Homo sapiens: one gene and its partners. The protein of the gene in region 1 interacts with the protein of each later gene in a pairwise test. Each region holds a gene or a part of one and is shown in the gene's direction. Other genes may lie near its edges.

Region 1 (7,104 bases):
AAGTTTAATTGACTCACAGTTACGCATGACTAGGGAGGCCTCAGGAAACTTACAATTATGGTGGAAGGGGCACCTTTTTCACGAGGCAGGAGAGAAGAGTGAAGAGCAAAGCAGGAAGAGCCCATTTTAAAACCAGATCTCATGAGAACTCACTATCAGGAGAACAGCATGGGGGAGATTGCCTTGATGATTTAATCACCAACCACCAGGTTCCTCCCTTGACGTGGGGATTATGGGATTACAATTTGAGATGAGATTTGGATGGGGACACAGAGCCAAACCATATTAGTAGATACTTAATAATTATATAGTAAATATTTAATTTTTATAGTAATAATTATATAGTAAAAATTTGTTTAACAATGAGAAATTGATTTATTCTTTCAGAAAATGTTTAGTAAGCACTTAATAAAAATCAGAAGGGGGGGATTGATTGGGAAAGTACTACAAGAGCAAACTTTCTGGGGCAATGGAAATGTATTTTGTCTTAGGTGGTGTTTATAGGTCCATATAGTTACAAAACTCATCAAACTGAGCGCTTCACAAACACAAAGCTTGGCCAGGTGCGGTGGCTAATGCCTGTAATCTCAGCACTTTGGGAGGCTGAGGCAGGCAGATGGGAGTTTGAGACCAGCCTGGCCAACATGGTGAAACCCCATCTCTACTAAAAATATAAAAATTAGCAGGGCGTTTTGGCAGGCACCTGTAATCCTAGTGACTCAGAAGGCTGAGGCAGGAGAATCGCTTGAACCCGGGAGGCAGAGGTTGCAGTGAGCCAAGATCATGCCACTGCACTCCAGCTTGGGCGACAGAGCGAGACTCCATCTCAAAAACAAACAAACAAAAAGCACAAAGCTCAATAAACTGAACTGTAAATTAAACACTTCAAACAAAAGTAAGTTAAATAAATTGAGCCAGACGTTATATAGACACTGGGGACACAGATGATCAGACAAATAAGGTCCCTGCCCTTGTATCTCTCTTTTTCTTTTATTTTTTATTTTTTTTATTTTTTTGAGATAGAGTCTCTTCTCTGTCTCCCAGGCTGGAGTGCAGTGGTGAGATCTTACCTCACTGCCACCTCCACTTCCGGGATTTAAGTGATTCTCCTGCCTCAGCCTCCTGAGTAGCTGGGATTACAGGCGTGTGCCACCATGCCCAGCTAATTTTCTGTATTTTTAGTAGAGTTGGGATTTCACCATGTTGGCCAGGCTGGTCACGAACTCCTGACCTCAAGTGATCTGCCCACCTCAGCCTCCCTTAGTGCTGGAATTACAGGCGTAAGCCACCACGCCCAGCCCCCTTGTATCTCTTATATTGTGAGTGGGGAACATGATAGGTAGATGCAGCCATTAAAATTTATGTTTCCAACTGATATTAAGGAGTTGGGGAAATAATATAATAATCTGACATACCATTAAGTGAAAAATGCAATATAGCCTTATTTTTTAAGCATTTACAGCCTATGTATTTACATACCAAAAAAGAGATACATTTACCAAATAAATACATAAATGTTATTTTTTATAATCCTAAGACAAAAATAAATAATATGCTGAATAAAATACATTATTTTATACAAAAATTTGCTTGGTGTGGTGGCGCACGTCCATAATCCCAGCTATTTGGGTGGCGGAGGCACAAGAATCACTTGAACCTGGGAGGCAGAGGTTGCAGTGAGCCAAGATCATGCCACTGCACATCAGCCTGGGTGACAGAGTGAGACTATCTCATTAAAAAAAAAATATATTTTAAATTATTTTATTTGGTCAGGCACGGTGGCTCACGCCTGTAATCCCAGCACTTTGAGAGGCCAAGGTGGGTGGATCACCTGAGGTCAGGAGCTTGAGACCAACCTGACCAACACGGTGAAACCCCATCTCTACTAAAATACAAAAATTAGCTGGGTGTGGTGGCGTGCGCCTATAATCCCAGCTACTCGGGAGGTCACTGAGGCACGAGAATCGCTTGAACCCGGGCAGTGGAGATTGCAGTGAGCTAACACGACACACACTCCAGCCTGGGAAACAGAGCGAGACGCTGTCTCAAAAAAAAAAAAAAAAAATTTTTTTTGCACATTATTTACAGTTAGTAATATTTTCCTTTCAAAGTATCTAAAATATCTGTAATAGCTGAACATATATCAAACAGATCTATAGAGACTAGCACATGTAAAATTTTTTTTAAGTTTCTTGTTTGATTCTTCTGTATTTTATCTTTCTTCATATAAAATCAGCCTTAATTGACAGAGAAATATTCTATGTACTCATTCATATGTGGGAACTAAAAAAGTTGATCTCATGGAGATAGTCAAATGGTAGTTACCAGAGGCCAGGAAGGGTAGGGAGGGAGAGAATGAAGAGAGGTTGGTTAATGGGCACTATAGTACGGTTATATAGAAAAAGTTCTAGTATTCAATAGCATAATAGGGTGACTATTGTTATCAGTAATTTTAGTGTATATTTCAAAATAGGAGAGAAAATTTGGAATGTTCTCAATATAAATAAATGATAAATGAGGTGACGAATATCCCAGTTACACTGAGTTGATCATTGCACATCATATGCATGTATGCATGTAGCAAAATATCACTTGTACCCCATAAATATGTACAGTTATTATGTATCAGTACAAAAACAGCCTGAATAAATGTACTTACAGTCATTTGAATTGAGCTTTTCAAGCTGTATTGCTTTCATGTATAAAGTTTTTCAGTAGTTAAATTGTAGTTGGTTATCTTTAAAAAGTAGATTATGTTAAGACTTTGGTAAGTTATTACTTTGTTGTAGGAGGTAATAGTACCTCTCATCACTGTATTTTTAAGCATAGTGTTTTACCAAGGAATTAAGTGTTCAAAAGAATATTTTCTGAAGTGGATTTTAAAACAGTAGTAATACCATTTGTTCTTGAGGTTTGTGGGTTAAGATAGGAAATGCTATATTTAAGAGTCTAACATTAAGGTTTTCAACCAGGCATGGTGGCTCACACCTGTAATCCCAGGACTTCGTGGGGCTGAGGCAGGCGGATCACTTGAGGTCAGGAGTTTGAGACCAGCCTGGCCAACATGGTGAAACCCCATCTCTACTAAAAATACAAAAATTAGCCAGACGTTGTGGTGTGCTCCTGCAGTTTTAGTTACTTGGGAGGCTGAGGCAGGAGGATAGCTTGTGCCCGGGAGGTGGAGGTGGTAGTGACCAAGAGCACACCACTGCACTCCAGCCTGGGCAATGGAAGTGAAACCCTGTCTCAAAAATAAATAAATAAGATTTTCATCTTTGCGTTCCCATTCACTCGCTTTTTGATAAATTTAAGCTCTTATGACTTCTAAAATATTGTAATATGTACAATAATACTTAATGTTATTCTACATTGAACAAACATTTAATGACTGCTATTTCGAGTTACATACTGGATGCTGGGGCCAATTGCAAGCTAAGATAATTAGTCAGATAAAACAGAAGGAACTCCATATGCAAAGAACTCAAAAAGGCTGCTTACTAGACAGTAGCTTTCGCTGGCCTCAGGTACATGAAGAGACCATGTTTGTGGAAGTTGAAGCTGGAAAGGTAGCCTTGCCATTCTTTGGAGATGGCACCTTATAGAGCCAATGATCTATAGTAGCATTGTCCAGTAAAACTTTGTGGTAATGGAAATGTTCTCTGTACTGTTCAATATGGTAGTCAGTAGTCACATGTAGCTAGCTATTGAGCCTCTGAAAGGTTACCAGTGTGTCTTAGAAACAGCATTTTACATTTTACTTAATTTTAATTTATTTACATGTGAATAGCCACATGTGTTTGTTTTGTTTTGTTTTGTTTTTGAGACAGAGTCTTGCTCTTGTCACCCAGGCTGGAGTGCAATGGCATGATCTCGGCTCACTGCAACCCCTGCCTCCTGAATTCAAGCGATTCTCCTGCCTCAGCCTCCCAGGTAGCTGGAATTACAGGCGCCTGCCACCACGCCTGGATAATTTTTTGTATTTTTATTAGAGACGGGGTTTCGCCATGTTGGCCAGGCTGGTCTTGAACTCCTAACCTCGTGATCTGCCCTCCTCAGCCTCCCAAAGTGTTGGGATTATAGGCATGAGCCACCACGCCCACATGTGTATATTAACCGTGTTTTCAATTTTCTGTATTTTATTATGCTTTAATATCTTAGGAGCCTTGTTGGCTGTGGAGACAATTTAATTCCTAGAGATACTAAATAACTTGCCTGTGAGCATGCCTTTCATATGCAAACCAACCAATCCAAAGCCCATGCCCCCAACCACCTCCTTTATCTAACCCTTACACATGAAGTCAGTATTTCTCCAGTCAATATTTCTCCTGCCCTAAGTCACCCCAGGGACAGGTAGGAGACGACTAGGGACCACTACTTTTGCCCAGAACCCACTGAAATTATTCAAGCTAGCCAGTCCTGAACAGTTTCCTGCCTTGCCTTTTCCATGGAAACCACAGTAAAGGCCTGTGCCCATGCTTTTTCCCTTTCCTCTTTCTTCCTCCTGATCAACCCTAGTACCTCTCATGTGGCCCTGCATTGCATAGTGTATCCTCTCCTCTTGGGAACTATAAGTAATAAACTGTTATTTCAAGACAGTTTCTACAAGTCTGTTGGGTACAAATCTAAACAGTATGGCTAGTGGTGCCCATATTGAATAGCACAGATCTTATACCTAGGCCTCCTTCTCCCCGCAAAAACAGTTCTGTGTTATCTCCAGAGCTTTAATTCACTCAAAGAACCTATTTGGAGTGTCTCCACTTTGGTTATGAGAATGTAACAGCCAGCATGGCAGACAAAGTTCATACTTTTACAGAGTTTTATTCTGGTAACTACAAGATTATATTCCTGAAGATTTTTGCCCATATAGCATTGTCAAGTTATTTGGCAAAATATTTTTTTCAAAGGAGTTGCTAGTACTTCCTCACCAATCTCTATAATCTCTGAATAAAAGCTACCATTTATTGTGTCTTTTTTGCCAGCCACTCTTATAGGTGCTATCTATGAAAATGGTAGATAAATAGGTTTTTTCATTTAGATTTCTTTGGCATGATGTTATATCAAAAATAATTCCATTTTGGAAGAGTTCATATTGTCTTTCTTTCAATAGTTAAATAGTACTATTATCTCCTGAGAGTAGTTTTACCAAGATAGGCACAGATTTTAATTTTAGATCTATTGGGTTTGATTCATGATAACTGACAACAGGCTTTGGATTTAGGGTGTCCTGGACTAAACCTGCTTAGGCTACAGTTTTCTCACATGTAAAATGGGGATAATAATGATACCTACCACATATAGTTGTTTAAGCTAACATAGTGTTAAATGAGCTAGTGCCCTTATACTCTTAGCATAACCTGTTCATTTATCTTTAATGTTTATTAGCATGAGTTAGCATATTATTTTCTGTTTTTCTCTTTTCTCAACTAAGCTATTTCCACATAGTGCCTAGCAAGGTATCAGATTCGGCATTCAGTGAAGGAAGTTAACTGGTAATTCTATAAGAACAGAAAAGAGCCCAGCAGAGGCAGGGTGCTAGCAGACATTTGATAAATGTATGTTGAAATGTTTATCTTGGTTTCCTGGTATTTTTGTGTCCACATGCATAGGGACTGTTTCATTTGTATCACTTATATTCCCTGTCCCCTTAAGACAGGCTAGGTACTCCAAAAGGCTTTAAATGAAGTTTATGGAATTAGATATATCTTAAAATGAGAACATTCAACATAGAAGGTTTCAATTTGTTCTTTAAAATAGTAGCTTTTACACAAAATTTCAGTGTTCTTTAGCAACATTTACCAAAAATGTACCTTAAAGCATCAGAGGACATGTTCTCTCTGATATTATGAATCAGTGGTAAAAATTCTGCAGATATTCTGTTGTATGATTTTGACATAGTATTAAGGAGATAAAATGTTTTCTTAACTTATAAAATATACATTGAATTTTGTTTATAGTTATAGTGATCATAACTCCTAAAATAAAAATAGACAAACACAAATAGACTTGATGTAGACAATGAGATAGGATATTTGAAATGGAACCTATTTCTGAAAAGTTAGGTTTCTAGTTTCACTGGTCTCAAATTATAAATAAAGTAAGGTGGTCTTTGGTAGAGCTGGCTTTATTGTGTTATTTATTCACAGTTTTATGGATCCATTAAAAAGGAATTAATGTAAAAAGTAACAAAGAATAAGCTCAAGGATGAAACTAGACATGCTATTTTGAATTCTTTTCCAAGAGCACTGCAGATTCTGACACATCTACATGTTTAGTTTCAGAATGGCTTCGGTTATTGCCTTTCCTTGGTGTACTCGCACTTCTTGGCTACCTTGCAGTTCGTCCATTCCTCCCGAAGAAGAAACAACAGAAGGATAGCTTGATTAATCTTAAAATACAAAAGGAAAATCCGAAAGTAGTGAATGAAATAAACATTGAAGATTTGTGTCTTACTAAAGCAGCTTATTGTAGGTGTTGGCGTTCTAAAACGGTAAGATGTCTGTTTACGTGTACACTAAAATTTTGCAGTGCTAGGATTGTTTCGCCTCTTAAATCCCCAGTTTTGAAGTTCTTTAAGATGAGAGAATTTTCTGTAATATTTGGTATTGAAAGACCATATTCCTAAATTGAAGTTTTCATGTCATGATAGATACTACCTACATTAGAAAAGTTGGAGCAGCAAAGAAGAATAAAAATCTAATGCCTTCGCAATGTTTGGCATTTATGTAGAGTAACATGTATTTTAAAATACACATTCTTTGAGAGAGGACCTAAGGTTTAATGGAAAAAAGCTTTGGTGTCATAGTAAATAGTGGTCAAATATACTTGTCACAGTATGAGTTTGGTTGGACAAGTTACTTAATTTTTAATCTCTAATCTTCAGGGTTTGTTTTAACCTGATACATCCACATTACATATCTTTGAGAAGTGAGATGATATATGTAAACTGCTTTAATAATATGAGGTAGTAAATGATAGCCTCAATTATAGATGATTTTTAATGTGGGAAGGAGTTTGGAGTGATAAGTACTATAAGTAGTTGACAAAATCTGTTTCTTGTACTTGATCATAGATTATTTGAGGTTTTTAATACAGTATTGCTCATCA
Region 2 (7,000 bases), on another chromosome or scaffold:
AGTCTGTGCGACCTGGCTGGGAGTACATTGGCCGGAAGATGGTAGGTCCCCCACATCCCAGGGTCCCTCCCATCCCGAACCCTTCTCTGCTCTCTGCTGTTCCAGATGTTGGCAAGTAACAGAGAGCTTCTCACAGCTCTGGGGCCTCTGGCTTGAGCTTCAGTGCCTTCAGCTTCTTTACTGGCCCCTCCTGTATCCTCCTGGGACATCAAGTTTGCCCGGGCCCTGCTCACTTGGGAAATAGGTCGCATTAGTGGAGTGTGCTTCAGTGGAGCCTCCAGCACCTCCTTCCCAGAAACAAAGCAGTAAAGGGGGAATGGCAGGCAACGTGCGGAGGAGAGGGGGAGCTTCAAGCGACCCGGCAGCCCCCATGGTGCCCTTCACTCCTCTCTACCCTCCTGCCTCGGTACTTCCTTCACAGAGGAGTGTGGAGACCTGCAGGCACTGCTCTTGTGTTTGCATAAAGAGGACACGTTGGGTTTGGCTAGTGGTAAAAAATAATTATTATTATTAAATTTAAAAATGATAATAATAAAAGAAGAACATGAAGGCTGGGAAAGGTGCTGGGGCTCTGACCAGCCCAGGTTCCAGCTCGTCCTGTCCCCTCTCCCACCCTCACCTGCCCCACCTCCTTCTGCCCCGGACTGCCCCAGGATGTGGCTGACTTCGAGTGGGTGATGTGGTTCACCTCCTTTCGCAACGTCATCATCTTTGCCCTCTCCGGACATGTGCTGTTTGCTAAACTCTGCACGATGGTTGCCCCAAAGGTGAGCTGGACCTGGGCCACCCAGCCTCTCCCTGCCAGCTCCTCTTTCACCACAAGGGTTGTGGGAACCCCCTCCTGGGGTCACGCCCCCATTTATATGGCGAAACTGAAGCCTTCTCCCTGCCCACAGCTCCGCTCCTGGATGTATGCTGTGTACGGGGCCTTGGCTGTGATGGGCACAATGGGCCCTTGGTACCTGCTGCTGCTGCTTGGTCACTGTGTGGGCCTCTATGTGGCCTCGCTTTTGGGCCAGCCCTGGCTCTGTCTTGGCCTTGGCTTGGCCAGCCTGGCCTCCTTCAAGATGGACCCCCTAATCTCTTGGCAGGTGTGAACTGGTGCAGGGGTAGAGGGTGTAGGGATAAGATCCCAAACCTCTCACTTCATCCAAAGTCCTTGCACCCCAAGTATCCCCAAGTATTCCCTTCACTTTCCACCTGTCTTCAAGCCTTTGGGTATGTCCTGGCCACAAGGTGAGCACCTGCATCACAGGAGGAACTATCCAGATCATCCCCTGCTCCTCGCATTGCTGGGATAGAGCAGTGGCCAAAGTTAACTGGCTCTGGAAGAGAGGAAGGGACAGGACCAGGCTGGGCCCCTGTGGGAAGCTAGGGAGTGGGGAATAGGTTTTCCAGAGACAGGAGGCACCCTAGTGAGCTGGTGGCCTGTTCTTTCCCCCTCCAGAGCGGGTTTGTAACAGGCACTTTTGATCTTCAAGAGGTGCTGTTTCATGGGGGCAGCAGCTTCACAGTGCTGCGTTGCACCAGCTTTGCACTGGAGAGCTGTGCCCACCCTGACCGCCACTACTCCTTAGCTGACCTGCTCAAGTACAACTTCTACCTGCCCTTCTTCTTCTTCGGGCCCATCATGACCTTTGATCGCTTCCATGCTCAGGTGAGGGGACACCCTGTGGGCTTCTAGAACAGGGCTGAATCTCCCTTTTCAGATTGGGGTTTCCATCTCAGATAGAATTCCCCAAGCAGGCTGTATCCCCATCCTCAGGCATGATTCCAGGATGAAGCCGTGTCTCCCCTCCCTCCTCAGACCCCAGGATGGGGCCACCTTTCCCCTCCAGCAGGGACCCCAGGGTGGAGACATGTCTCTTTTCTCAGACAGGACTCCCAGGCCACGAATGTTCCCTTCCCACTCAAATGGGGCTCCCAGGACAGAACTGGGTCTCCCATGGCTGGCTGTGAATCCTCCTCAGACTCCAGGGTGACCTCTGTCTCCACCCTCAGGCAGGACTCCTGGATAAAGCCATGGCTCCTCCTGCCCCAAGTAGTTGGTGAGCCCCCCTCAGACAGGGCTCCCCAGGCAGGGCTTGCCTCTTCCCTCAGACCCTTCGCATCCCCCCAGGTGAGCCAGGTGGAGCCAGTGAGACGCGAGGGTGAGCTGTGGCACATCCGAGCCCAGGCAGGCCTAAGCGTGGTGGCCATCATGGCCGTCGACATCTTCTTTCACTTCTTCTACATCCTCACTATCCCCAGCGACCTCAAGTTCGCCAACCGCCTCCCAGACAGTGCCCTCGGTGGGTCCACAGAAGAGAAATGGGGGCAGGGCTGCCGCCCCAGGAAAACAGACCCTCTGCACCCCCACGGTGCCACAGTCAGGGGAGCTGAGGCACGCAGGGCACAGCACCTGAGGGCGTGGGAGCAGGGGCTTATTCTTTCTAATGCATGGGTCTTGGCATTAGCTTCATCCTGTGGGGCCAGAGCAGCATCCCACGGACCCCACCCACTTCACCAGGCATGACTGATTTCCACAATATGGGGGGGTCTCCGTGGGGCGGGCAGAGCCTGGTGTCTCCCCAAGGAAGTGGTGGGACAGGGTCTTCATGGGGGCAGGCCCCAGGCGATTGGACCCCAGGCAGTGACAGTGCCCTGCCCCCAGCTGGCCTAGCCTATTCAAACCTGGTGTATGACTGGGTGAAGGCGGCCGTCCTCTTTGGTGTTGTCAACACTGTGGCATGCCTCGACCACCTGGACCCACCCCAGCCTCCCAAGTGCATCACCGCACTCTACGTCTTTGCGGAAACGTGAGTGCTGGCCAGGACGGGGGAGGCTCACCCCCTGGGACCACACCTTCCCCTAGCCTCTTCCCCCATGCCTGGGGAGCTCTGCGCCTGATGGCAACATGCCCATCTGCTTTCCTCTTACAGGCACTTTGACCGTGGCATCAACGACTGGCTTTGCAAGTGAGTAGGAGTGGGGTGGGGGTGGTCACAGCCATCCTGCCAGGTGTCTGAGCAGGGCAGTGCCAAGATGGGTCCACATTTTAAAAGATCACCCCTGGGCCAGGGGAAGCAAAGAGGGCAGTGAGGAGGTATTGGCAGAGGTCTGGGTGAAAGATATAGAAGTTAGGATTTAAGTGAGGGCCCTCGAGGTGGAGAGAGGTGGTGGGAGGAGGGTCACACAGTCAGCAGCCTGAACAGGACGTGGCCATGAACTGTGGGTGTTGGGAAGGAGAAGGAGATGACGCTCAAATTGCTGTCTGCAGCCTGGGAGGATGGAGGGCAGTTTCCAGAGAGGGCTTCAGTTTAAGAAATGTATAGTCGCAATCTAGGAGACATCCCTGTGGAGGTTCAGGGAGGTGGTTGGGTCTGAGGGTCTGGGTTTCTGAGGGTCCAGAGGACTGATGGAACTCAGAGCGTCCTGAGTGTGGGCAGGTGGTTTTTAGGCTTTGGGAGTGGGTAAGTCCTCAGGAGAGGGAGTGGTGTGAGAAGAGGAGAGACGGGGATGGCCGAGATTCAGCCTGCAAGAGCTCTGCTTGGAAGGAAAAGGAGCCAGCAGAAAGGACTGGAAAGAGTAGTTGGAGGGGCAGGAGAAGAATCAAGGTCATGTGCCACCCTGGAAGCCAAGGGAAGACCATCCAGGCATGGTGGGGACAGCTTGGTCAGATGCCACTGAGCCTCAAGGAAGCTGGAGACCGAGGATTAGTGCTGGTGACATGGAGGTTTTCAGCCTTTCATGGGCAAGGCAGGAGCAGGTAAGGAGGGAAAGTCAACTGAGGAGTAGAGAAGTGTGTGATGACTCCTGGAAGAAGCCTGGGACTGCAGGGGGAAGACAGGAGTGGCTGAGGGAGAAGAGGGATGTGTTAAAGATAGGAGAGAATGGGACATGCTAAGAAGAATTATTCAACAGAGAAGCTGGGGATGCAGGATACAGGGGTGATTGATGGAGTGAGGTCCCTGAAGAGGAAGGAGGTGAGGGTGTCTAGTTCCAGGCGGAGGCCTGGCTTCAGTGGGAGGAGGAGGAAGAGAAGCCAGTGTGGATGCAGAGGAAAGCAGGTTAATGTAGACAAGTAAGGGATTCCACCTGAAGGCTTCAGCCTTGTCCATGAAGCAGGAGGCACGGCCATCAGCTGAGAAAGCCAGGACAGGGACGTGGAGAGAGGCAACATATATGCTTACCCCCACAACCCAGCCTGGATCCCCCCACTCATACTATCTCTCCACTCATACTTGTGGGGAGATAAGAATACAGTGGCCCTTGCAGAGCAAGGGAGAAGCAGCTGACTAGAGAAATCTTGGCACTGAGTACCCAGGTGGTATTGGAGGTGGTGGGCTTATGAACTCCAGCATGTGAAGATGTGAGATTTCCCCCATGGGGCTTAGCTGCCTGGGTGTAGCTGAGGAGAAAGTAAGTGATTGGGCTCTCCCAGATGGATGACAAGGAAGAAGTCAGGAATAAGGGTTTTTAGATTATTTATAGTCATGACTCATTGGATATAAGCCTGCTAAGGACGGTGGTGAAGGTGGGAGGGTCACAAGATCAATGGGATTGAAGAACTGAAGCTGGGGGGCCAGGAGGTCAAGAGGAGTTGGGCAAAGAATGGGAATTAGAAAGGAGTGAACTTTCAAGTGGTGACAAAGTTGGGGCATGGCCATGGGTGTGGGTGGCTGAGGTGGAGTGGAGAAAAAGCCATTGGAAATGAGGAGGTCGAGGAATGGAGAGGCTGGTTATTCCTGGGTCTTCCACAGAACTTATTTAACAAATATTTATTGAGCACCTATGTGCCAGGCATTGTTCTAGGCACTGGGGATACAGCAGTGAACATGGCAAAGACCCTGAACTCATGGAGCTTACAGTCTAGTGGGGAGAAACAGACCATAAACAGGTAAACAAACATAAATAAGATAATTTTAGAGAGTGGTAAGTGTTATGAAGAAAATAAAATTGCAATGGGATAGAAGTTGACAACAGGGTAGAAGCTTCTTTAGTCGGGGTCTAGGCAGGCTTCTCTGAGGAGATGATATTTGAATTGAGATTTGAGTGATAAGGAGATGTGGAGCAGAGAATACCAGGTAGAGGGAACAACAAGGGCAAAGGCCTTGAGACACAAACCAACTGTGTGGGTGTAAAGGTAAGAAAGGCCAGTGAGGCCAGCATGATGAACTGGGGGAGCATGGTGGCTGATTTGGTCAGGAAGGGAACAGAAACCAGACCACTTGGGATCTTCTAGCCAGAGTAAAGAGACTGAGTTTATTCCTATTGTAATGGGGAGCTATTCAGAGAGGTTAATCATGGAAGTGATGTGACCTGAGCTACACTCTTAAAAGATGCCTCTGGCTGCTGTGTGGAGAATGAACCATGGGGGCAAAAGCAGAAACAAGAAGACCACTTAAGAGGCTCTTGCAATAATTTATGTGAGAAGAGTGATCATCTTGACTAGGGTGGTGGTGGTAGAGGAGGTGAGTGGTGGTCAGGACTGAGAGGAGCCAACAGAATTTGCTGGCTTGCTTGGATGTGGGTGATGAGGCAAACTGAGAATCCAAGATGGCACCAAGGCTTATACCCTGAGCAACTGAATGGATGGTGGTGCCATTCACTGAGATGAGGACGGAGCTGGGTTTGAGCAGGGATAGGGGAATCTGTCAATCAAGTGACATGGCTAGTAGCAATTGCATATACAAATCAGGAGAGACTGGGCTAAAGACACAGATTTAGGGGTCATCGTCATAGAGCTAGTACTTGAAATCTTGGGTCTGGATGAGATCATTTGGGAAGTAAACGAACAGAGATAGAGAAGCTATAATGTCCCAGGCTGAGCCTGCCACAATTTGAAGTTGGTTGGAGGAGGAGCTGCTACGTGAGGTCAGGAATGTTGAATGCACCCAGGGTGACAGTGTTGAGGAGGACGCCCTGTTGTGTGTCCTCTCCCATCTCATCCCTGCCCTTTCCCACACTCCCAGTGGCCCTTCTCCCATCTTTCCTGCAGATATGTGTATAACCACATTGGTGGGGAGCATTCCGCTGTGATCCCAGAGCTGGCAGCCACAGTGGCCACATTTGCCATCACCACACTGTGGCTTGGGCCTTGTGACATTGTCTACCTGTGGTCATTCCTTAACTGCTTTGGCCTCAACTTTGAGCTCTGGATGCAAAAACTGGCAGAGTGGGGGCCCCTAGCACGAATTGAGGTGAGCAGGGAAGACCTGGGGCTGGGACTGGCTGGGTCATAGAGGGCGGGGGGGCACTGCTGCTTTCTGGAGTTGTCCAAACACCTGGCCCCTAATCCAGAACTTTCTCACCACCACCCTCTTAGTTGTCAGAGCAATGGCTCACTCTGTAGGAATCTGCCCCTCCCTCCCTTCTATGAGGAATGGAGCACCTGGGCCTTGCCATGTTGGTCAGGCCTTGTCCTCTCTCTGGACCTGTTTCCCCATGTTTAACAAGGAGGGAGAGCTGACCTGGGGCTCTCCGAGACCCAGACATAGCCCCAAGACCTGACTGGCCAGGTGGGTAAGGCTGCTGACCCACCATGTCCTCTTTCCTTTGGCCTCTTGTCCCGCTGCCCATGCTTTCCTGGACCGGATAGGCCTCTCTGTCAGTGCAGATGTCCCGTAGGGTCCGGGCCCTGTTTGGAGCCATGAACTTCTGGGCCATCATCATGTACAACCTTGTGAGCCTGAACAGCCTCAAATTCACAGAGCTGGTTGCCCGGCGCCTGCTACTCACAGGTGAGGGACAGGGGTGTGGGGATACAGAAGGTGCCAGGCATCAGCCTCAAGGACCGTGACCTTCCAAAATGCCTCCTATCTCCCTCATCACCCCTGGGACTCAGAAGGGAGGGCCCATCAAGCGGGGAGAGGGGTGGGAAGACAAAAGTCGCTGAGGATGCAGTGCTGCTCCTGAGCATCTATGACTCCCTCCCCACACAGGGTTCCCCCAGACCACGCTGTCCATCCTGTTTGTCACCTACTGTGGCGTCCAGCTGGTAAAGGAGCGTGAGCGAACC
Region 3 (6,946 bases), about 96 Mb from region 1:
ACACCAGTCACGCCAGGCTACTCATGTCAAGACACCAGTAGGCAGGGGAAGAGTCACCCATCGAGCAGGGGCAGTTGACCTGAACCATCAGAGGAGGTAGGGTTGCTGTCACACAATGGAAGCAGAGAAGACTGTGTGCCACCCACATGGGTGTCCCTCAGGACTCTTTCACCTGATGTAGTCAGCAAATAGGCAAGTGAGCAGCTATGGCTCAAGAAGGGAATGGTCACCAGGGGCTCATCCTCGTTGGTGAGGATCTGGGGCAACCCACCAGGTAAGCTATCTAGTCCAGCATGGGTCTAGCTGAGGGTGAAAGGGATCTGAATGAATAATCCAGGAGGGGGTTGTGAGTATCACCTTCAAGCCTGAGACTAGCTGCAGCAAGAGCTCACGCAAGAGCCTTGAGGAAAGTACAAATGAAACCCTACACAGCTGTGATACAGTGGGCAGGAGAGAAAATGACATGAGGTCTCACATGTTGTTGTAGTCAGATGGGGGGCTGGAGCTGAAACAGCATGGTGATCTTGAGCTGCTCCCTGTGGTCTGCCCCATGTGGGCTGGTTGGGCTTCCTCACAGCATGGTGGCCTCAGGGTAGTTGGACTGCTGACAGGGCAACTCAGGCCTCCAGGCACGAGTGCTCCAGTGAACATGGATGTCATGGAAGTCACACAGTACAACTTTCACTACATTCTCTTTGTAACAAGTGTGTCACAAGCCCGCCCATGGGCCAGGCACAGTGGCTTATGCATGTAATCCCAACACTTTCGGAGAATCCCTTGAGGCTAGGAGTTTGAGACCAGCCTGGGCAACATAGAGAGATCTTGTCTACAAAAAAGAAAAGAAAAATTAGTTGGGCATGGTGGCATACACCTATAATTTCAGCACTTTGTGAGATGGTGGTGGGAGGATGCCTCGAGCCCAGGAGTTCAAGATCAGCCTGGGCAACATAACGGGATATTATATCTAAAAAAAAAAGAAAAAAAAAAGTTTTCATTAGCCAGGCATGATGGCACATACCTGTGGTCTCAGCTACTCAGGAGGCTGAAACAGGGGGATCACGTGAGCCTAGGAGTTTGAGGCTGAAGTAAGTTAGGAGTCCACCACTGCACTCTGGCCTGGGCAACAGAGCAAGACTCTATCTCTAAAAAACACAAAAATTAATAAAATAAAAAACAATAAATAAACAAGATTCAATGAGAGGAGACATAGACCCTATCTCCTAATAGGAAGAATGTCAAGATCATATTGTAAATCAAAAATAAAATTATAAGCCCCAGCTGAGAGAATGGACCCCCTGTCGGCCAAGGGGACCCCAAAGAAACCCAAAAAACTAGTTCAGGCCATGATGGGAAGTGGGAGGTCACACATGCCTCATCATAGCCTCCTCCCTTTAAGTTTCGGCACAGCTGACCAGCATTAACATTAACATAGAGATCCTCCTAAGACTGACAGAACACTTTTGTAGCAATCAGATACCCGATTCTAACATGACTCTGGTATAGCAACACACGACAGAGAGCAGGCCCTAAAGGAAATCAAAGTATTTTACCCCAAAATAAATTTTCTTTGACATATTTTGAAATGGACTTGCAAAGTCATCTCTTGTGGGGGAAACTTGCATTCTGTAGAGAATCTCCTTACTTACTAGCTCTTTTCCAGAGAGTCTGATACCTTTTAAGGTCCCCAGAGACATGCACATCTATTCTCTCTGAAGCCTGCTAACTGGAGGCTTCATCTATGTAACAAGAACCTTAGCTTCCACATCCCCATTGTCTTAACTCAAGCATTTCTTTCTGCCGACTCCAACTCTTCAGGTAAAGCTTAACTCTTTTAACCAATTGCCAATCAGGAAATCTTTGAATCCTCCTCTGACCTGGAAGCACCACCCACCCACTTCAAGATGTCCCACCTTTCTGGGCCAAACCAATGTATACTTTACATATATTGATTCATGTCTTTGCCTGTAACTTCTGTCCCCATAAAATGTATAAAGCTATAGCCCAACCACCTTGGGCACCTGTTCTCAGGACCTCCTGAGGCTGTGTCACAGGCCATGGTCACTCCTATTTGGCTTAGAATAAACGTTCTGAGATATTTTAGAGTGTGGCTTTTCTCGTCAACCAAATTCTACAAAGAGCTTGGGGGGTGGGTAATGTTGTGGAGCCCATCTTTGGCAGATACAGTCTGCCAAAGATTGTGACACTGCCTTATCGATAAACTCAGTGGCTTAACACAATTAAAGCTTATTTCTCCCTCTTGTCACAGCTCTTTGGGTTCCTCATGGTTCCATGTGGTTCTTCAGAGCCTCCATTGGTGGCTCTAACCTCCCTGAGGTCCTCGGAGTGCCCTCCACTGGAGCAGTGGGTGAGTAAGAGAGCAGGGCTCACCCACAGGAGGTTGTTAGGGGCCAGCCTGGAAGAGGAGCACAGTGCCCGCCCCCACCCATCCCATTGACTAGCACTTAGCCACGTGGCCGCACCTGGTTGCAGAGGCTGGAGAGTGGAGCCCAGCTGTGAGCCTGGCCGGTCATGGGGACATGTGTTAGTGAGTACTGTCCACGTCAGGCTCAGACCATCTGACCTGAGGCTATGGGGATGCAGGGGTCCCCAGGGGGTGGACAGGACAGAAGGAGGAGGGAGACCTGCTTGGAGAACCTGTTCTCAGTTTCCATTTGTTACATAATGGACAAGAGGACCAGCACTTTTGCTCAGAGCTGCAGCTCTGGTTCCGCTAGGAAATGCCAGGCAGGGGCACAGCCAAGTGGTTCTCAGACAGTAAACCCCAAGCCACAGACCCTTGCTTTCTTGGGCAGGGAGTAGTGGACAGGGCTGACTCCAGGCAACAGTCCCAAACAGGCTGCACCAATGTGACCGCACCTCCCCTGAGTGCAGGCAAGGGGTGCTGTGCTCACGCTCTCAGCCTGGGTGCATCCTTACTTTGTTCACAGCTCCTCTATCGGACCCATTTCACTGAGGCTCAGCGAGGTTACCTATGTCGCCCCAGGTCACCATCCAGTAACCCAGAAAGCTTCTCTTGGCTCCTCCACTAACTGCGTGATCTTGGACAAGTCAGTTACTGTCTCTGAAAGCCAGTTCTCCTCCTTAAAATGGAGACAGTTGAGCCAGGCATGCTGGTTTATGCCTGTAATCCCAGCACTTTGAGAGGCGGAGGCAGGAGGATCGCTTGAGCTCAGGAGTTTGGGACCAGCCTGGGCAACATAGTGAGGCCCCCATCTCTATAAATTTTTTTTTTAATTAGCTGGGTGTGGCAGTGTGCCCCTGTGGTCCCAGCTACTCAGGAGGCTGAGGTGGGAGGATCACTTGGGCCCGGGAGGTCAAGGCTGCAGTGAGCCCTGATCGCGCCACTGCACTCCGGCCTGGGAGACAGAGTGAGATCCTGTCCAAAAAAAAAAAAAGGAGACAGTCCCATAACAAGCCCCCCATGGCGCCGCCCAGATGGGGTTTCGACGCCAGGGAGAGGAGGGAAAGGGTTATCAGGGAAGGTTCCTGGTGGCAGAGCTCACAGGGTCCGTGCTGAGCCGAATTTTGCACGGTAGCCTCAGAGTCCCGGAGCCGAGTCCAGAGGGCGGGATGCAGGTATTGCGAAGAGGCACACGCTCCGAGAGGAACCACCAGAGCGTGGGCTTTGGGCGAGGAGGGGTCTCCTCTGGTTGGGGGAGATCTGGCAGGCTTGGGGGAGATGGGGCTGAAAGGATGGACAGGGAGGGAAGGCCAGAAAGCTGGAGACGGGGATGGAGAGCTAAACCGCAAAGAGCAGGCGCCCTGCCCCGCTGAGGGCCCCGCGCCTCCAGCTCCTCCTTCCCGAGCTTCCCGGGGTCGGCGTCCAGCCGGCAACCAATGGGCCCCGCCCCCGCCCGCAGCCAATGGGCCGCGTCCCCGCCCGCGCGGCCGCCCCGCCCCTCGCGGACCCGGAAGTGGGCCTGGCACCTTCCCGGCCTGCCGCAGGGATGGGGCAGCTGTGCTGGCTGCCGCTGCTGGCACCGCTCCTGTTGCTGCGACCGCCAGGGGTCCAGTCCGCCGGCCCCATCCGGGCCTTCGTGGTGCCCCACAGCCACATGGACGTGGGCTGGGTCTACACTGTGCAGGTAGGTGCCGACCACGCCCCGCGCGCCCCTGAGGCTGCAGCTTCCCTCTCCCCGCGGGATCTGAGTGTGGGTTTGCGTCCCGGGGCCCGATGCCGGCGCAGAAGGAGGCTCAGTGGGTTCAGGACCCCACGCTGCCATTGACTGGTTGCGTCGCTAACTTCGGGCCAGTCACTTCCTGCCTCTGAACCCCCATTTCCCCTTCTGGAGGGTGGTGCAGATTGGAGGGACCCCTGCATTCCCGGCTGGGGAGGGGCTTGGGGGTTGACAGTGGTAACCCATTTTCCAGGGAAGCCTGGAGCAGGAGAGGGTGGGGCTGGCTTCAGAGCAGGTGGATGTCAGGTGCCCGCTGGGAAGGGGCCGGGCTGGTCCCCTGCGGGGCTGAATATTGGAGGCCAGCTCAGCGTCCTCCGCCCCCCAGGACAGGGGTGAAGGTGGACCTGTGGTCACCTCCTGGTTCTGCTCAGGACCTTGGGCGAGGGGCTTTGGTCCCTAAGCCTCAGTTTCCCCATCTGTAAAGGGTAGGGGAAGCATGCCCACTACAGCCAGTTTCCAGAGGAGAAAACCGAGGCCCAGAGAGGGTTGCTGCCTTGCCCAAGGTCGCTCGGGAATAACCCTCATGCCTCCTGACTCCCTGCTCGGTGCTCCTTCCATTCATGTAAGCACTCTGTGGGCACCCTGTGTGCAGGGCCCTCGGGACTCGGATGGGAACACACTACAGCTGTGGTCCTTGGAGCTCCCAGCCTTGGGGAGGCAGACGCCTAGACGCCAGGGACAGCCTGGGGAGCTCTTCCTCTCAGCACCAGCTTTCCTCATTTCAGCCCCAGCAGGCCCCTTTGGGGTCACTGGACCACACCCCGACTGAGGCCTAAGACTTTCCTGTGCTGCCCCTCAATGGCACACTCAGGGCCCAGCCCCCCAAATTGCACACTCAAGGCCCAGCTTGCTCACCCCTCTGAGAAACTGTCCCTGACCCCTGGGCTGGGAGGGCACCTGTCTCTGCCCATGTAGGGTGTCTGTTTCCCCGTCCCTCTCCCCCAGGAGAGCACGATCCCATCCAGTGGGGAGAGCCTGGTATGGAGCGAGTGCCTAATAGCTGTGTGGGGGGTGAGCAGCAGGGAAGGAAGGGCAGAGCCCCCAACCCCATGCAGACACACCTGGCGAATGGCAGGGGCCCCAGGGACACTTGGTCTTGTTGGACCGGGGCTGGCATGATGCTGTCCCCTCCCCAGGAAAGCATGCGGGCGTACGCCGCCAATGTCTACACCTCAGTGGTGGAAGAGCTGGCCCGCGGCCAGCAGCGCCGGTTCATCGCTGTGGAGCAGGAGTTTTTCCGGCTGTGGTGGGATGGCGTCGCCTCGGACCAGCAGAAATACCAGGTAATGAGGTCACCAGGTGACACAGTTGGCCCAGTATCCTGGCAAAGACCCAGGTGGAAAACTCAATGGGGCAGTTCTAGCCAGGGCCAGGGCCAGGCTGGCATAAACCACAGGGCCAAAACCCCACCGGGCTATTCACAGCCTTGTTTAGATCAAGGTTCACGGTGAGTTCCATGCCTGGGAGAGATTGCTTTCAATTTAATCCTGAATTTCTGTCTATTCTTGAAAAAACTGCCAGCTCTGGCAACCCAGCTGTGCACTTCCGTGCCAGCTGGCACTAAGTCAGCAGTGCCCCCTGACACCAGGCATCCCAGGTGTCCCCAAGCCCTCACCCTCTTCTCTCATTTGTGTTATCTGCCTGGCCCCCGGGCCCAGGGTCTGGTGACCCTTGATGAGGGTGCGATAGTCCCTGTGGTTTGAGGGTAGGCAGCAGGTTGCTTCATACAGCATGGAGAGTCAGAGTCCCCGCTGCACAGTGAGGCAGCCTGGGTCCCATCCTGCTCCCGCACCAGGGGACACGACTAGCCCCTGCGAGCCACAGATTCCACTTCTATTAAACGGGGGTGACCGCCCCATTGCAGAAAAGTCATGCCAAGAATGAAGCCCTGGCGTGAGCACCCAGGACGATACTCGGGGGTTCTTAGTTTCCTCCCAGGTATCCACCTGCCTTCAGAATAGTTGCTGAACATAAAGTTCAGGGACGCCAAGTGACTTGCTCAAGGGAGTGAAGCGGAGAAGGGAGAGCAGGGCGTCCACCAGGCCCCGCCAGAGTCACGGGAAGGAGCCGGACATCCAATGGCCACTTGATGCTGCCAGATAGTGGGGTTCTTACCTCAAGTTAAAGAGACATTCCAGGTTCAGAGAGGGCACGCCACTGGCCTGCAGTCACACAGCTTGTAAGCGGCAGGTGGGATTCTGAGCCAGGCATGCCTGACTCGAGGCAGGCCTTTCCAGGATATCCTGTGAGCGTCCCATGCTTCTTCAGGTGGACCCCACCAAACCCAGTGGTCTGTCTCCTAGCCCTCAAAGAGAAGCATGGCCTGCATGGCCCAGTGAAGACCTGGACAGGAAACTTGTGGCAGAGCTCCCTGGAGGCAGGAATTGTTGCCTGCTTCATTCACTGCTGAACCCCCAGTGCCTGAACAGTGCTGGTTGTGTAGTAGGTGCTCACTTAACATTTGTTGAGTGAATGATCTACATATAGTGCACCTTAAGAAACAAACCAAAGGCACAGCCTATAAACAGCTGTGTGTACACATACTGAGGTGTGTAGTGTCTAGGGCAACAAAGGTGTTATGTGTGTAGAGACGGGGATGTTAAGCAAATAGGTTAAAAATGGTAGTGATGAGTGAACCTTGGGAAAGGATATGGGAGCTCTTTGTTCTATTCCTGAAACTTTTCTAAAGTTTAGAATTAGTTAATAAAATAAGATTTAAGAAAATCTTATATATACAAATATATATC

Evidence for each region. Proteins that work in one complex are often made in the same cells at the same time.
Region 2: the proteins of CISD2 (region 1) and HHATL interact in binary tests that used the Homo sapiens proteins (3 or more experiments, as listed by UniProt).
Region 3: the proteins of CISD2 (region 1) and MAN2B2 interact in binary tests that used the Homo sapiens proteins (3 or more experiments, as listed by UniProt).

What each region holds. Positions count from the first base shown.
Region 1 is NC_000004.12:102,878,944-102,886,047, forward strand, and holds part of CISD2 (CDGSH iron-sulfur domain-containing protein 2), read left to right. Parts: intron 1-6,105; exon of another isoform or gene 6,106-6,272; coding exon 6,273-6,487; intron 6,488-7,104. UniProt on the Homo sapiens protein: Regulator of autophagy that contributes to antagonize BECN1-mediated cellular autophagy at the endoplasmic reticulum.
Region 2 is NC_000003.12:42,692,799-42,699,798, reverse strand, and holds part of HHATL (protein-cysteine N-palmitoyltransferase HHAT-like protein), read left to right. Parts: coding exon 1-41; intron 42-653; coding exon 654-767; intron 768-896; coding exon 897-1,091; intron 1,092-1,447; coding exon 1,448-1,657; intron 1,658-2,119; coding exon 2,120-2,291; intron 2,292-2,653; coding exon 2,654-2,798; intron 2,799-2,921; coding exon 2,922-2,957; intron 2,958-5,954; coding exon of another isoform or gene 5,955-5,980; coding exon 5,981-6,182; intron 6,183-6,580; coding exon 6,581-6,722; intron 6,723-6,923; coding exon 6,924-7,000.
Region 3 is NC_000004.12:6,571,243-6,578,188, forward strand, and holds the start of MAN2B2 (epididymis-specific alpha-mannosidase isoform 1 precursor), read left to right. Parts: upstream 1-3,946; 5' UTR 3,947-3,968; coding exon 3,969-4,106; intron 4,107-5,335; coding exon 5,336-5,482; intron 5,483-6,946.